Homo sapiens: one gene and its partner. The protein of the gene in region 1 interacts with the protein of each later gene in a biochemical or structural test. Each region holds a gene or a part of one and is shown on either strand. Other genes may lie near its edges. The genes, in order: ABCE1 and RNASEL.

Region 1 (8,280 bases):
AACTCCAAAAAAAGTGAAAAAAAATAGAGTACCCAAAAGCTGTGGGATAATAACAAATGGTCTAGCATATGTATAATTGGATTCCCAGATTCTTAGAAAGATAATAGAGAAGCAATAGGGCAAAAGAAATAATTGAAGAAATAATGGACACAATGTCTTTTACAACCTAGTCTCAAAAGTCATATACCATCAGTTTTGCCTTATTCTACTGGTCCCAGAAACCAATCCTGACACAATTTGGAAGCGGTCCACAGAAGGGCATGAATACCAGAAGGCAAGGATAACTGGGGACCATTTTGAAAGCTAGCTACTACTAATCTGGTGAATGGATAAACAAACTGGTACACCCATATTGTGGAACAGTAATCAACAATAAAAAGGAATAAACTACAGATATGTGCCCCAGCAAAACCCACAAGTGAATTATGCTAAATGAAAGACACTAGACCCAATAAGCTACATACAGTATTTATATCGGCATTCTGGGAAAGGCGAAACCAAAGGGACCCAAAACTGAGCTGTCAGGGGCTTGGAAAGGCCCAGAAGACTGACCATAAAGAGACATGAGGGAACTTTGTGGGATGATGGCAATGTTATATATTCGATTATAATGCTGCTTATATGACTGTACATGTCTGTAAAATTCACAGAACTGTACACCTAAAAAGGGTAAGTTTTATAGTATGTAAATTATACCTCAAGAAAGTGCTCATAGAAAGACAGAGAAGGGAATCTTGAGGGGAAACAGAAGAGGCTTGGTTGAGAGGATGGATACAGGAGTCATAATGTGCAAATAATAAAAGTTTCTGAAAGAAAGATGACTACTAAACTAATAACATTATAAAGTCCCTCAAGCTAAAGAAATTTCTCCAAGCTTGAGTCTGCAGGTGAAAACTGCCTATAAAATTATGGGTTACAAGGGTGAGAAAAGATATCTGGCAAATGCCATGAACTCAAGAATAAAGAGAAAAACCTTAGATGCTTCCAGAAAAAAACAAGTTACTTAGGAAAAAAAAAAAAGAGAGGTAGGCATAGGCCTTTATATCCACAACATGGCAAAAGAAGATAGTGAAAGAGCATTCATAAATTTTTGAGAGAAAAGGACTGCCACCCAAGAATTCTATCCCAACAAAGAGTAAAAGGAAAGTATTTTGGCGTATGTTATCACTCATTTATCCAATTGAGAGAAACGGCCAAAAAAAATAAATGAATAACAACTGAATCATAGTAGAGATAGAGGAGGAAAAGAGAAGACCTTATGACATATGTAATTAAATCTAACTAGGGAATAGTAAAGAAATTGGACAGAGATATATGATAAAAAAAAATTCAGTGCATTAGAATTAAAATAAAGCATCTAAACAAAAGGAATATTAAAATCAGACCAGTGTACAGTAGTATCTTTATCTGCAGTTTCATCTCCGCAGTTTCAGTTACCCTTGGTCAATCATGGTTCAAAATATTAAAAGGGAAATTCCAGAAACAAACAATTGGTAAGTTTTAAACTGTGTACTGTCTGAGTAGTGTGAAGAAATTTCTCACCATCCTGCTCCATCCCACCCAAGACATAAATCATCACTTTGTCCAGCACATCCACCACTTTGTCCAGCACATCCACCACTTTGTCCAGCATATCCACACTGTGTATACTACCTGACCGTTAGCCATCAACATCATCTGCTCCTGATATCCAATCATCAACATCATCGTGGCTTGATGATCCAGAATCACCAGAAGCAGATGCTCCTCCTTCTGAAGTATTGTCAGAAGGTTAATAGTAGCCTAACACTACATCACAACACCTACATTCTTCACCTCACTCGCTCTCATCACATAGACATTTTATCTCTCACATCATCGCAGGAGGAAGGGTACAATATAATATTTTGAGAGCGAGAGAGACCACTTTCACAAAACTTTTATTACTTTATTACTTCTATTGTTATAATTGTTCTATTTTATTATTAATTATTGTTAATCTCTTACTGTGCCTAATTTATAAATTACACTTTATCACAGGTATTTATGTATAGGAAAAAACATAGTATTAATATAGAAAGGGTTCAGTACTATCCATGGTTTTAGGCATCCACTGGGAGTCCTGGAATGTATCCCCTGGGATAAGGGGAGATGCCTGTACAAGGAAACTGCAAGTGACTATTTCCAACAGCTTTTTTGTTTGTTAGTTTTTACCTGGTTTGCAAGATGAGAGTGACCAAACAGCTTGTGACCCAATTTCCCGTACTGTTCCAGTCCTTTCCAACTGCTTGGGGTCAGCACCAGGAGGTGTCTTGTTTGGTGTAGTCATTTTTAAAATATTCTATGTAGAAAACAAGAATGCACACATTGTATCAGGAACTGGGCATCTTTCTACAAAAGTTTTTTACCAAGAAAAATTTAATGGAACTCATATACCCTGACATTAATCATTTATTCTGAAGAATGCAGTTAATATAATTAAATCACTGTAATTTAAATCTTAGGGGCTGGGCATGGTGGCTCACACCTGTAATCCCAACACTTTGGGAGGCTGAGACAGGAGGATCATGTGAGCCCAGGAGTTCAAGACCAGCCTGGACAACATGGCAAGACCCCATCTCTATTTTTAAATAAATAAAAATCTTAGGAATTCAGGTTTTGTTTCATATGACCAGATATGCAAAGCAGTGAGCTATAGTAGTCAAAAGAGCACAGAATCAAAGTTTTGGCTTCAGTATCTCCTTTAATCAGCCTAGACTTTGAGTAGGTCTGGGCTTTATTTCCTCTCCTGTTAAAGAGGTTCACTTGATGATTTTTACTTCTACAATGCTATGCAGTTCTATAATTCTGTGCCTGAAAATTCAAATGACTTTTAGCCCTAGAAAAGTCAGACTGAAATACTTTTATTCTAGGAATATATAAATATTGATCCTCATTTTATTTACTTAATTCCTTTTTTTTTAGAGACAGGATCTAGCTATGTTACCCAGGCTGGTCTTGAACACCTTGCTTCAAGCGATCCTCCCACCTCAGCCTCCCAAGTAGCTGGGATTACAGGTGTGATCCCATCACCCCACTAAGATCCTCATTTTAAATATTCATTGAGTGATGCAGAGAACAGTCATACCTGCCCTCTAGCTGTCAAAAGTTTTATTTAAGACCCAGCCCGGTGGCTCACACCTGTAATCCCAGCAGTTTGGGAGGCCAAGGCAGGTGGATTGCTTGAGCCCAGGAGTTCGAGACCAGCCTGGAATATGGTGAAACCCTGTCTCTAAAAAAATTCCAAAAAATCAGCCTGGTGTGGCGGCACACACCTGTAGTCCCAGGGGGGCTGAGACAGGAGGATCACCTGAACTGGGAGGCGGAGGTTGCAGTGAGCCGAGATCGTGCTACTGCACTCCAGCCTGCGTAACAGAGCAAGACACTGTCCCAAAAAGCACAAAAATAAGAAAAAAATGTTAAAAGTTCACTTACATATGCTCTTACCATAGAAGATAAGGTCAGGAAAATGGCTTCAAGATTTTGAAGTGAATAACTGGCCCATTCTAAAAAGGTTGACCTCATCTTTCACATCTTTTGTTAATTTTACTAAGTCTATTCATATGTGAAAAAACACTTCAATACTGGATCGTGAACAATATGTAAAACTGCTTTGGTAGCGCAGTTACTGCTACTGAACATTGTTATATATGCTATTCAAAATAGGTGCAATAGTTCTGCATACCGTTTCCTTGACACCTCCCATTGTATCCGAAGTTGTTCTTTAATCGGCACACAAGCACTTGATACTTACTAAATAACGGCAGACACAACGGACTGTAAACTTTGGCAAGGCCTGAGGCTTAAACGCTCAATAAGTAATTTACTGAATGAATAAACAGATGAATAGGTTCAGTTATGAACTAGTTGTCACTTGCCTGCAAGTTAGGTGAGATCTAGGGCGAGACTATTCAACCTGCAACCATCATTACTAACTGAATGTCCTGTTACCTAAAAAAAGATAGAAATAAAGCCCATCTTTAGGGCAGAATTCAACTGCCGGACTTGGGACTGGACGCCACCAAGTGGATAAAATATGGAGCTCGGAAAAGATTGGATTCCCGGCCCTGAACTGACCACACAGTTGAGAGGAAGTTGAGGCCTAGAAGAGCGCGCAACAGTAAGCCGTGTCGGCACCAGACTCTGTTGGTCCTACTGACACCTCCAGCGTTAGAATGACTAAGGCTCCACTCCTGACCCACCGGCCTTGAGGAAAGCGCAAACGTAAAAAAAGATTGAAACCGGAGAGGCGAATGCATCTGTTTACGCTAGGACCACGCTCGACGTCGGAGAAAAGCCCACACACTCACAGTTTCCAGACCTGGCTGCTTGCCGAAACTCAGATTCTCGGCACCTCCAGCAGCTGGCTTCGCCAACGGCGTTGAACAAGGGTCGCAGCTCAATGACGTCATATCTCCCTACCTACCTCCAGGGTTCCGCCTCACGCTCTATGTCGCGCGCGCGCACTACGTCCTATGGCTTGCGCGTGCGGCGGCTGGGCACCGCCATTTTGGCCGGTGGCCGTGAGAACACGCTGTGTGGCTGAAAAGTGAAGGCAAGAGCTGATTTGGCCTCTGTGCTCCCCTCCGCAAGGGGATCGTTTTCTCCAGGTACGTGAATAGCCCGGAGAGGTTTGGCCGTTAGCTGCCATCTGCCAGGTTGGAAAGAATGTAGGGACGTTCTCCGAGAGCCTTTGGTTAGGCCTTAGGTGGCGGAGACAGCAGCAGCGCGTGGCAGCGGTTCCTGCGGGACAGCTGGAACTGATGGAGCGCGGGCGACGCCGAGAGCTTGGGGGCGCCTCGGTCTTCCCCTCCAGCCGACCCGGCTGTCGCCGCTGTTGCCTGCCACACCCGCGAGGGACTTCGAGAATGGACCTAGATGCCGTAGTCTCCACTCCCCCTTTACCCCACTCCCGCCCTGAAGCTAAACCTGCTGGAGAGGAAGGCACCTTTAGAACTTACAGCACTCTCTAGTACCCCCACACTCCTCCAGCACCCAAAATGGATATATTGTCACATGTGCATATTTGGTTGTGGGAAGTCGTGGCTTCCACGTTTTGTTGAGTGGAATGAGTCATGGCATCTTGCCGCCATGAAGTCGAATACTCGCTGTCCACTCCCAGGCTTTATAGAAATGATGCCCACATGTCACTCTGCTTTTCTCAGAACAGCGTGTACGCAGCTATGACTGGGGTTGTCCCAAGTAGTTTCCCAGTAGAAATCCTATAGTTTTTTTGGTACGCTTTTGTAGCACTAGGCACTTTCTCCCCTTACCCGTTTTTCCTTTTATTGTATCTAATACTCATTGAGATCAAGGTTGATGTCTTTACTCAGAATACCTTTATTATCTCTTCAGGGCTTCGTACATTGTAGGCATTTAATACGTATTGTGAATGAATGACAGCCAAAGCCGAATTCCCACCTCCCATTAACTACATAAGCTTATTTTCTCTTTTTTGATGGTAAAAATCTATAAGAGGAAGAACTGTCCAAATAACATGTTTTATTTTTTTACTCTTTCCCAACAGGACTGCTAACTAGTCATTTATGATAGTGGCATTTATGTTGCAGTAGTTTGTCCCATATTCTGAGAATATTCATTGTATACCAGCCACCTGACACTAATACTTTGTTAGTGTAACCAAAGGCTCAGAACCTGTATTTGAACCAAAAGCTGTTTGGGGTTTGTGAGCTTTTTGAGAACTTAGTTCTCCCCTATTTTAAAAAAGGGAGTTTTTTTGTTTGTTTGTTTGTTGGAAGAGCATCTAACAATTGGGAGAGAGGGGGAGAAAACAATATTAAGTTAGAGTTCTTCTAAATGTCTTAAACTTAAAACTCTTTGAAATCAGAGCCGTGTACCACTCCTAACTTCTACGTGTTTTGTAAGACTAATAAACTACAATAAGCATGGGTTAGACTATTTCATGTGATACTAAACATCATTAGTTAACAGCAGTCTTTGAAATGCTTTTACACAGCGTTACAATTATTTTGGCTTTAGACTGTAAATGCTTCTAAGTATTCCTCACTTCCTTTTTTCCTCTCAGCTGTAAGAATGACACTGAGGGTCATTGTTCTAGTGTCAATTTTGAACACTTTTGTCTTCGAATCTGAAATATCCGCAAATCCTTCTTTGTTTGCAGGAGCCTGTTAACTATAATCTTCCTCTCCAAGCTTTACTGTGCCTAGGTTTTCTATTGAAAAACAAGTAGGGAATCCCCTTGCCCCAATTATTGAAACTGATACAGAAATTGAATTAAAAGTGTTCACACAGTTAATTAACAGTTCTACAAAGAATCCATGTTCATTTTTCTTAAATGCATTACAATTTATCACTATTTTTATATAAATCAGTTTATTAACCACTTCTGGTATGTTTTTATTCTACTGTAAAAATCAAGCCAGGGTAGTGACATGCACCTATAGTCCCAGCTATTCGGGAGGCTAAAGCAAGAGGATCCCTTGAGCCCAGGAGTCCCAGTCTGTAGTGTCCTGTGATCACTGCCCTCAGCCAGGACACCATAGCAAGATCCCTGTGTCTTTTTAAAAAATTGTCTTTTACAGTCTTTTGGTTTTTAAAATAGTTTGAAAAATTAAATATTTTAGTAGTTTAACAGAAATAAAGTTTAAGCAATTTCGTGGTGATTTATCCCCTGGAGGGGAATTCATTATGCTCTTTCACTGAGTAATTGTAGAAAGGCATTCAGTATTTAAATTAGAATGCATGGTGTCCAGTTTTAATAGCTTGCTGAAGAATCTTCATTTCCTAGGAAGTTGTCATTTCCCGAATAATAGCTTTTTTGTGACAATTCAAGCCATCTAATTTCTTCCTCTTCTAATCTTTACAAGACCTGGACCAGTTTTTAGAGGAATAGAGTCAACCTGTTTATTGGAATAACCCTGTACTTATTACATGAACATTTAGTCTCCTTTTGAATGATTTTTTTTTTCAGTATGTAGTTTAGTGGACAACTGTCACTATAAAATATTGGTAACTTGCAAGATTTCTAAAGTTGTTATAACCTACAGGAAAATTATTTACTATATTTAAATTCATATTCTCATTCATTTAGCAGAAATGCTTGATCTCCTGTGTGCTAGGCACAGGTTCAGCCACTGGAATGAACAAAAATTCCTACCCTCATGATGGATGGAGTACATTCTACTTGGGGAGGGGAAAAATGTGTATGTGTTTGTAGAGAGACAATATACATACACACACCCACGATAGATGTGTGCATATACACCAGATATATATAAAAAAAATATATATATGGAATATATAGTATGTCATATAGTTGAGCTAGGGAGAAAAATAAAGCAAGAAAGAAGGATGAAGAGGCAGTTGGGTGTATTTTTCGGTAGTGTATATTGTGGTAGTGTAGTTACAAAAGGCTCACTGAGAAATAGTAAAGATTGAAAGGAGTAAGCCATGTAACTCTCTAGGGGGAATAGCATTACAGGCAGAAAGTGCCAAGATCTTGAAGCAAGAACATGCCTGGCATGTGCTAGGAACAACAAAGAGCCAATGTAGCTGGAGCCATACAAGAGCTAGAGTAGTTGGAGATGAGATCAGAAAGTTAACAGAGGCTGATCAATGCCTCATTGATTATTTTCAGGACTTTGGCATTTACTCAGATTGAGAATGAAGCCATTGCAGGATTTTAAATAGAGGAGTGACATGATCTAGCTTACTCTTTAAAAGGCTTCCTATGGTTCCTGTGTTGAGAATGAACTGTTGAGGGTTAGAGTAGAAAGAGGTGAGGGTAAAAGCAAAGAGATCTGTTAGGAAGCTATTTGAGTGATGCTGGTAAGAGATGATAGTGATAGCTTACACCAAACTCATGAGATCAGATTCTGGATGTTTTATAGCTTCAGTGGGATTTGCTGTTATTAGGTGGAAAAGAAAATGACTTCAAGGATTTGGGCCTGAGCAAATGGAAGACTGGAGTTGCCATCTAACAAAATGGGCAAGACTGCTGAAATTTTGGTGAGGATATCAGGAGCTTAGTTGGGAGATTCCTCTTAAGCCTTCCAGAGATGTTAGGTGGGCAGGAAGGGTTCAAGAGAGGTATGCTGACTAAAGATAGAAATTTGGAAATTTGCAGTATATAAATGGAATTTAAACCTGTGAGACCAGAATAGAACAACTTGGGGAATGAGTATATGTGGAAAAAAATGACCAAGTCTTAGAGCACTCTGCATTTAGAAGCCTGGGAGATGAAGATGAGTGACCAGGAAAACAGTAGAAAAACCAGATTAG
Region 2 (8,078 bases), on another chromosome or scaffold:
GGCTTTTGGCAAGTAAAATGCAATTTATTCCTAAGCTTAGAGAAAATCTCTGCAGTCCCAGCGATCTTTCTTGTCAAAGGAAGGAAAGGTTAAGAACATTGCTTAATTCTAACATCTTGAGTGTGGGAAGGAGGGAGCCAGAGGGAAGGAGGAAGGTATCCTTACATTTCACCTTGGCCTTGGTTTCTCTCTCCATGTTCCCAGCCTGGAATTCGCATCCACTGCTGGGAGGGGTCTCTTCTGCTCTTGGTGATTCTGTCTTCAGAGTCTGGGCCTCTGAACCAGCAGCGACTGGGGTCTCTTTGTGGACAGACTGATCTCTCCTTCTGCCAGGACTGTTGTCAGACTCCACCTGTCTCTTGGGGCACCCCCCTCCTTGATACTCCTGGCTCCCATGGAACAAAACAATTCTGCAGAATGCCAACAATAATTGATGATGTTGTCCTATGACTACAGTGGAACAAGACAGAAATAAGGCCACTTCTTAATGAGGACTGAACACGAGGTGAAGAAAAGATGCCATACCACCATAAAAGTAACCAACACCCCCTCTCCTGGGTAACATGAGCCACCTGTTCCTTGAGCAGTGACAGTGCTAGCTACACTTTGTTCCTCCTGATTCCTAGATGATCATAATGAAGGCACCAAAGTGCTTCTGCTTCCTGACACCACCCAATTGAGAACAAACCTCTATTTCCTTAAACCCTTCCCCAAATCACCTGACAAAAAGCTCAAACCCTAAAATAAGTATCCTGATTCCCTTTTAGAAGATATCCTGGGGCTGGGTGGAATGGCTCACATCTATAATCTCAGTGCTTTGGGAGCACAAAGCTGGAGGATTGCTTGAAGCCAGGAGTTCAAAATCAGCCTGGGCAACACAGTGAGAACCCATCTCTACAAAAAATTTTAAAAATTAGCCGGGCATGGTGGTGCATGCCTCACAATGGGTCCTAGTTATTTGGGAGGCTGAGGCAGGAGGTTCACTTGAGCCCAGGAAGTTGAGGTTGCAATGAGCTATATGATCTATATGATTGTGCCACTGCACTCCAGCCTGGGTGGCACAGCAAGATCATGTCTCTTAAAAAAAAAAAAAAAAAGCAGGGCGCAGTGGCTCATGCCCATAATCCCAGCACTTTGGGAGGCTGAGGTGGGCGAATCACAAGGTCAGGAGTTCGAGACCAGCCTGGCCAACATGATGAAACCCTGTCTGTACTAAAAATACAGAAAAATTAGCTGGGCGTGGTGGCAGGCACCTGTAATCCTAGCTATTCGGGAGGCTGAGGCAGGAGAATCGCTTGAACCCAGGAGGCAGCAGTTGCAGTGAACCGAGATCACACCACTGCACTCCAGCCCAGGTGACAGTCCAAGACTCCATCTCAAAAAAAAAAAAAAAAATACTCTGCAGTTCCTGGGATGAGTCCTCCCTCGCTGTAGTTGGTAATACACTTGCCTTGGTTTCACTGTAGGTATGATTCTGCTCACTAGACTTTAACATATGTCATTATGACCAGAAAGGTCAGCATTCTCCAAGAGTTTTTACCAAATCATCTGTTCAGGACAAACTAACATCCACTGTTACCACTATGCTACCACCCTGGTCTGGGCCACCGTTGACTCTCAGCTGGATTATTGCAATAGCCTTCTAACGGATTTTCCAACTTCTCCCTTTGCTTTCAATCCCCAGATTCTTCTCAGCACAGGACTGATTAAGATCCTCTAAAAAAAAAGCCATGGAGATCATGTTACTCCTCTGCTCCAATACTCCAATGGCTACCATGTTGTTTAGTGTGGAAGCCAAAAGCCTTACAACGGGCCCTAAGGTCGCGCCTGACCTGAACCTCTGCTTATCAACTCCCCTCCCTCACTCTGCTCCAGCCTCACTGGCCTCCTTGCTGCTGCTTGTTCCCACCAGGCATGCTCCCACCTCAGGACCTGTGTGCTTGCTGTTTCCTCTGTCTGCTGTGTTCTTGGTGCAGACATCTGCATAGCCTGTTGCTGCATCTTCCGCAAGTCTTTGCTCAAACGTCACCTTCTGAACAAGACCCTTCCCGACTACTTTGTTTAATATCCCCATCCCCATCCTGGCACTTTTAACCCTCCTTATTCTATCTTAATATTTTCTGTAGATTTGTTGCCTACAATACACTACATGATTTACTTATTTTGTTCATTATCTTGCTTCAGTAAGAATGGGGGCAGGGGCTGGGCATGGTGGGTCACACCTGTAATCCCAGAACTTTGGGAGGCCGAGGTGGGTGGATAACTCGAGGTCAGGAGTTCGAGACCAGCCTGGCCAACATGGTGAAACCCTGTTTCTACTAAAAATACAAAAATTAGCCAGGCATGGTGGCTCATGCTTGTAATTCCAGCTACTTGGGAGGCTGGGGCACGAGAATCACTTGAACCTGGGAGGTGGAGGTTGTGGTGAGCCGAGATCACACCACTGCACTCCAGCCTGGGTGACAGAGCAAGACTCCATCTCAAAAAACTCACACCTGTAATCCCAGCACTTTGGGAGGCTGAGGTGGATGGATAATGAGGTCGGGAGTTTGAGACCAGCCTGACCAACGTGGTGAAACCCCATCTCTACTAAAAATACAAAAATTAGCTGGATGTGGTGGTGTGTGCCTGTAATCCCAGCTCCTCAGGAGGCTAAGGCAAGAGAATCGCTTGAACCCAGGAGACAGAGGTTTCAGTGAGCCAAGATCGCGCCACTGCACTCCAGCCTGGGTGACAGAGTGAGACTCCGTCTTGAAAAGAAAAAAAAAAAGAAAAGAATGGGGACAAGCTGTTTCTCTGTGATGTTCAGTGATATAGATCAAATCCTTAGAGCAAGTTACTTAACCACTTTATGCTTCAGTTTTCTTATCTGCAAAACGGAGACAAAAATAGTATATACATCATAAGGATAAGATTAAATAATTTAATACATATATAAAGTGTTCAGAACAGTTCCTGGACCATATTAAAGAGCTATGTAAATGTTTGTCATTATTAACAGAATCATCCACATTTTCATCACTCTTACTAATATCATTAGTTCTGGTAGCAAGGCAGCATAGGTCAAGATATAGAGGTAGAAGCATATGACATAATGTGACAAGGAACTGGAGGCTAGCACTGATGATGCCCATGAGGAGTAGGGACAGGCAGGGACTGTATTATAACCTGAAATCATGATATGTTGGGTTTTTCAACTGTTTATGATCTATTTCTGCCTATTAAGATGCAAGCTCCTAGAAGAACTCTGTGAGGAACTGGTGTGGTAAATCATTCTATGCCAGATATGCAGAATAGTCACTGGTAACATAGTCAGTGCTCAATAAGTTTTTTTTTTTTTTTTGAGACGGAGTCTTGCTCTGTCATCCAGGCTGGAGTGTAGTGGTACTATGTTGGCTCACTTCAACCTCCACCTCCCGGGTTCGAGCAATTCTCCTGCCTCAGCCTCCCGAGTAGCTGGGATTACAGGTGCACAACACCACACCTGGCTACTTTTTGTATTTTTAGTAGAGACGCGGTTTCACCATGTTGGCCAGGCTGGTCTTGAACTCCTGAACTCAGGTGATCTGCCTGCCTTGGCCTCCCAAAGTGCTGGGATTACAGGTGTGAGCCACCACGCCTGTCCAACAAGTATTAATTAAATGAATAATGGGTTAAGGATTTTTGAACTTTGTCCTGAAAATGATGGTGGGTCAATGATGCAGGGTGGAACAATGGATGAAGGGCTAGGAAGCAAGTCATCAATTTCTTGCTATAAATGATGACAAGGACTCGAATGGTCATCCCTTTGTAGATGAAAGCAAGAGACTTGGTGTTGGGATGAGGATGAGGGGTGGCCTCCGGGTGATGGTGCCATCTGTGGAGATGGAATAAGTGGGAGGAGGGGCAGATTTAGGAAAAGATGAGTATTTCCATTTGACACATATTCAAGATTTGTAGGTCTAAAGCTCAGCAGAGAGGCTGGGGTTAGAGAGCGAGGCCTGGGAATCCCTGGTGTATAAGGGGTGGTAGAGGCCCCGGGTCTGGATGGTGTGACACAGGTGGTCGTCAAGTGACCATGCACTACTTGTTGTTCACAAGTCCCAGGGCTTTGTCTCCCCAGCAAGACTGGGTATTCTTTGGGGATGGAAATACTTTCCACTACAGCACTAAGTACACAGTACACAGCTCATTGCTAGGAAGATAGTCAAGAACAGAACTTGTAGAGCAGAAAGGAACCTTCAAAACCAAGTTATAGGAGAGAACTGAGGCCCTACATGGTTAAATCACATGCCTGAGGTCACTCAGCTAAGCAGCCACAGAGCTGGCTGTAGGATCAGGTCTCCAGACTGCCAGTCCGGTACCCTTCTGAGAAGGCCGCACTGCCTCAGAGCTGTGAGTTGAGTGAGCTGAGAAAGGTGACAGGGCTTGGGCTTTGGGCTTACTTAGCTTCTATGAGCCTGCGTTTCATAATCAACAAGATTGTCAGGGGTTAACTGGGACCATGCTGCATGTAAAGCATTGTGTCTGGAACACAATAGGTGCTCAATATGTGTTTACTTTCCATTCCTTTCTTCCAAGAAGACCAGAATTTGCAATGACAAAGAAAGGATGCAAGAGTGATGGATGCAGTTGGCTGCTGCCACCTGAAAGGCTGCAAGACTGAGAGGTGAGTGACATGACCCCGGGCATCACATTCCTCATCAGCAGACAGAAAGTGGCTATTGCTTTCCTCCAGAAGGTGTGCAAGTAGAAGCTTTGCTCCTGGTGCCAGAGTGAGCCTGTGGCTGCTTTCCCTCCCACACTCCTCACTCCTTTCTTGGCTCCGCCCTGCTGACTCAGTGACGCAGCAGGAGGAAACTGCTCGGGCTGCAAGCAGTCTTCCAGGCTTTGCGGCTGCCAAAGGAATAATTGAGACGTCTGAGTTGAGCAGGTAAGGCAGGCAGAAGGAGGAAAGCTAGAAAACCTCGATAAGTCGATCCTGAAGAATTCTTGGGCTTTGGAGACTGGAGAGGCCAGGGGCTGGAGGACTTGGGAAGTGGGAGGGGAGCTCCCAGCCCTTGGCTGCCCGGAAGGATCTTCCTCCAGTGCCCTTCCAGAGTTCTGTCAGAGTCCACACGTCATTTATCCATGTCCTCAGTTTCTCAGGCATCTCTTTGCGACTTACTCAGGTCGCACAGAGAAAGTGAAATTGAAAGCAGGATTGTCTGTTGGAGTACTTCCGCAGGCTCGTCTCTTCTCTACTCTGATGCGTCACTCAGGGCTTCCTTGATATTTCCTCTCCTTCCCGGCTCCTTTGTTTATACCAGCCCACCTCACATCTGATTGTAATGGGGACGGTCTACACAAACACTTTGGTTCAAAGATTTCATTGCCTGGTGATCGTGTATGTGTTGCACAATTAATTAAACTTCTAAGAGGCTAATCAATTAACCTCTGAGGCTTTGAAACTGTCAGAGTGGTGAGATTGCTGAAAAAGGGTTGCTTCGTGAATTCTATAGCAGATGCAGTTATTTAAATATTCAGGTAACAGTTTCGGGCTGTCTGATGATTGAACTGGATCTGTAATTCTCAGATCTGATTGACAGTTGGACGAAATTGATAGCTGCCAGTTGCCTATTCGTGTAGTAGCTATATGCACATGTGTAGGGAGAATAGAATTCACTAAGCAATTTATTTTTTCATAACGGGATATAATTAGCTCTAACATTCATTGAGTGGCTAATATTTGCAACACTCCATACTTTAATGTACTTTACACACATGACTGTATTTATTTTTGTCTCCATTTCAGGAAATAGAAAATTGAGATTCAACAATCCAAGGTTACAGGAAGTAATAGTAAAAAATTACACAGCCACAAGCTCAAACTTAGATCTCCCTAAGGTCAGAGTACAAGCTCTTTTCACTACTGCAGATACTCCTTGACTTATGATGGGGTTACATACAGATAAACCCATCCTAAATTGAAAATATTGTAGGTCAAAAGCACATTTAATACACCTAATCTACTGAACGTCATAGCTTATCCTAGCTTACCTTAAATGTGCTCAGAACACTTACATTAGGCTACAGTTGGGCAAAATCATCTAGCTCAAAGCTTATTTTATAATAAAGTGTTAAATGTCTCATGTATTTATCGAATGCTATGCTGAAATAAAAAACAGAATGGTTGTATGTGTACTTGAAGTGTGGTTTCTACTGAATGTTTATTGCTTTTCCACCACTGCAAAGTCAAAAAATCATAAATCAAAGTCAAAAAACATAAGTCAGATATTGTCTGTACTTTAAATAGGGGCACAGGGTTGTACAAAGAGGACATGCACAGAGTCAGCAAACACAGTGATCAACCTTCCTGGTGACATAAGAAATGCAAAGGGAAAAAAAGCCAAGAAATATATTTTTCTTATTGAATGAGGGTTCTTCTTTTTTTATTGATAAATAATTGATGTGCATATTTTCATGGTCTTTTTTTTTTTTTTTTGGAAGCCACCTATCTCTGGTAAGAATATATTTATATGACATTGAAAGCAATTTGTTAATATAGGTTAAGAATCCTAAATACAATCATATCTTTTGAATAGTCATTAAATTCTTTGAAGTCTATCATATGAAATCTATCATAAGATCTATCGAAAGAAAATAAACTAAAATAAGCTGAATTTGCTGCAACATCATTTAGATTTTTTAAATTTTTAATTTTAAAAAACCCTTTAAAACTTATTTTTGAAAACCACTCAGTAATAGAGAAATGAAACAACTGTATGATTTCATATTACATAGTCATGAAAAATGTTTTACAAGACTTTGCAATAACACAGGAAATGACTTATAGTATGGTATTAAATGAAAGGAAGTAGGATACAGTTACTTACAGAGTATAATTCCAAATGTCTTAAAAAATATATAGAAATACACTAAAATATTAACATTGGCTGTTTCTGGGCATTGGGACTAGAGAAATAATTTTCTTATTTTGAATTTACATATATTTATAATATTCTGTAATTTAAAAGTTTTATAAGAAATAAATATATGTATTTAGAAAAAATGCTAATATAATTAATTTCTCTGATTCAAGTGTTTTCTCCCTATTGTAAAATTACAAAGCACCTCTCTTCGTTGCCAGGTGGAATGTCAGAAGACTGAGAACATTGTTCCTTCTTCATACTGCTGCTCTGTTGCCAGAGAATCCCAATTTACACTCAAAGCTTCTTTGATTAAGTGCTAGGAGATAAATTTGCATTTTCTCAAGGAAAAGGCTAAAAGTGGTAGCAGGTGGCATTTACCGTCATGGAGAGCAGGGATCATAACAACCCCCAGGAGGGACCCACGTCCTCCAGCGGTAGAAGGGCTGCAGTGGAAGACAATCACTTGCTGATTAAAGCTGTTCAAAACGAAGATGTTGACCTGGTCCAGCAATTGCTGGAAGGTGGAGCCAATGTTAATTTCCAGGAAGAGGAAGGGGGCTGGACACCTCTGCATAACGCAGTACAAATGAGCAGGGAGGACATTGTGGAACTTCTGCTTCGTCATGGTGCTGACCCTGTTCTGAGGAAGAAGAATGGGGCCACGCCTTTTATCCTCGCAGCGATTGCGGGGAGCGTGAAGCTGCTGAAACTTTTCCTTTCTAAAGGAGCAGATGTCAATGAGTGTGATTTTTATGGCTTCACAGCCTTCATGGAAGCCGCTGTGTATGGTAAGGTCAAAGCCCTAAAATTCCTTTATAAGAGAGGAGCAAATGTGAATTTGAGGCGAAAGACAAAGGAGGATCAAGAGCGGCTGAGGAAAGGAGGGGCCACAGCTCTCATGGACGCTGCTGAAAAAGGACACGTAGAGGTCTTGAAGATTCTCCTTGATGAGATGGGGGCAGATGTAAACGCCTGTGACAATATGGGCAGAAATGCCTTGATCCATGCTCTCCTGAGCTCTGACGATAGTGATGTGGAGGCTATTACGCATCTGCTGCTGGACCATGGGGCTGATGTCAATGTGAGGGGAGAAAGAGGGAAGACTCCCCTGATCCTGGCAGTGGAGAAGAAGCACTTGGGTTTGGTGCAGAGGCTTCTGGAGCAAGAGCACATAGAGATTAATGACAC

What was found.
Region 2: the proteins of ABCE1 (region 1) and RNASEL form a complex in vitro, tested with the Homo sapiens proteins (one study listed by BioGRID).

The regions. Positions count from the first base shown.
Region 1 is NC_000004.12:145,093,792-145,102,071, forward strand, and holds the start of ABCE1 (ATP-binding cassette sub-family E member 1), read left to right. Parts: upstream 1-4,519; 5' UTR 4,520-4,628; exon of another isoform or gene 4,629-4,780; intron 4,781-8,280. Other genes in the region: ANAPC10 (anaphase-promoting complex subunit 10), read right to left, coding at 2,194-2,320, 3,454-3,543. UniProt on the Homo sapiens protein: Nucleoside-triphosphatase (NTPase) involved in ribosome recycling by mediating ribosome disassembly. Able to hydrolyze ATP, GTP, UTP and CTP. Splits ribosomes into free 60S subunits and tRNA- and mRNA-bound 40S subunits.
Region 2 is NC_000001.11:182,586,001-182,594,078, reverse strand, and holds the start of RNASEL (2-5A-dependent ribonuclease), read left to right. Parts: upstream 1-4,822; 5' UTR 4,823-4,912; intron 4,913-7,108; 5' UTR 7,109-7,272; coding exon 7,273-8,078.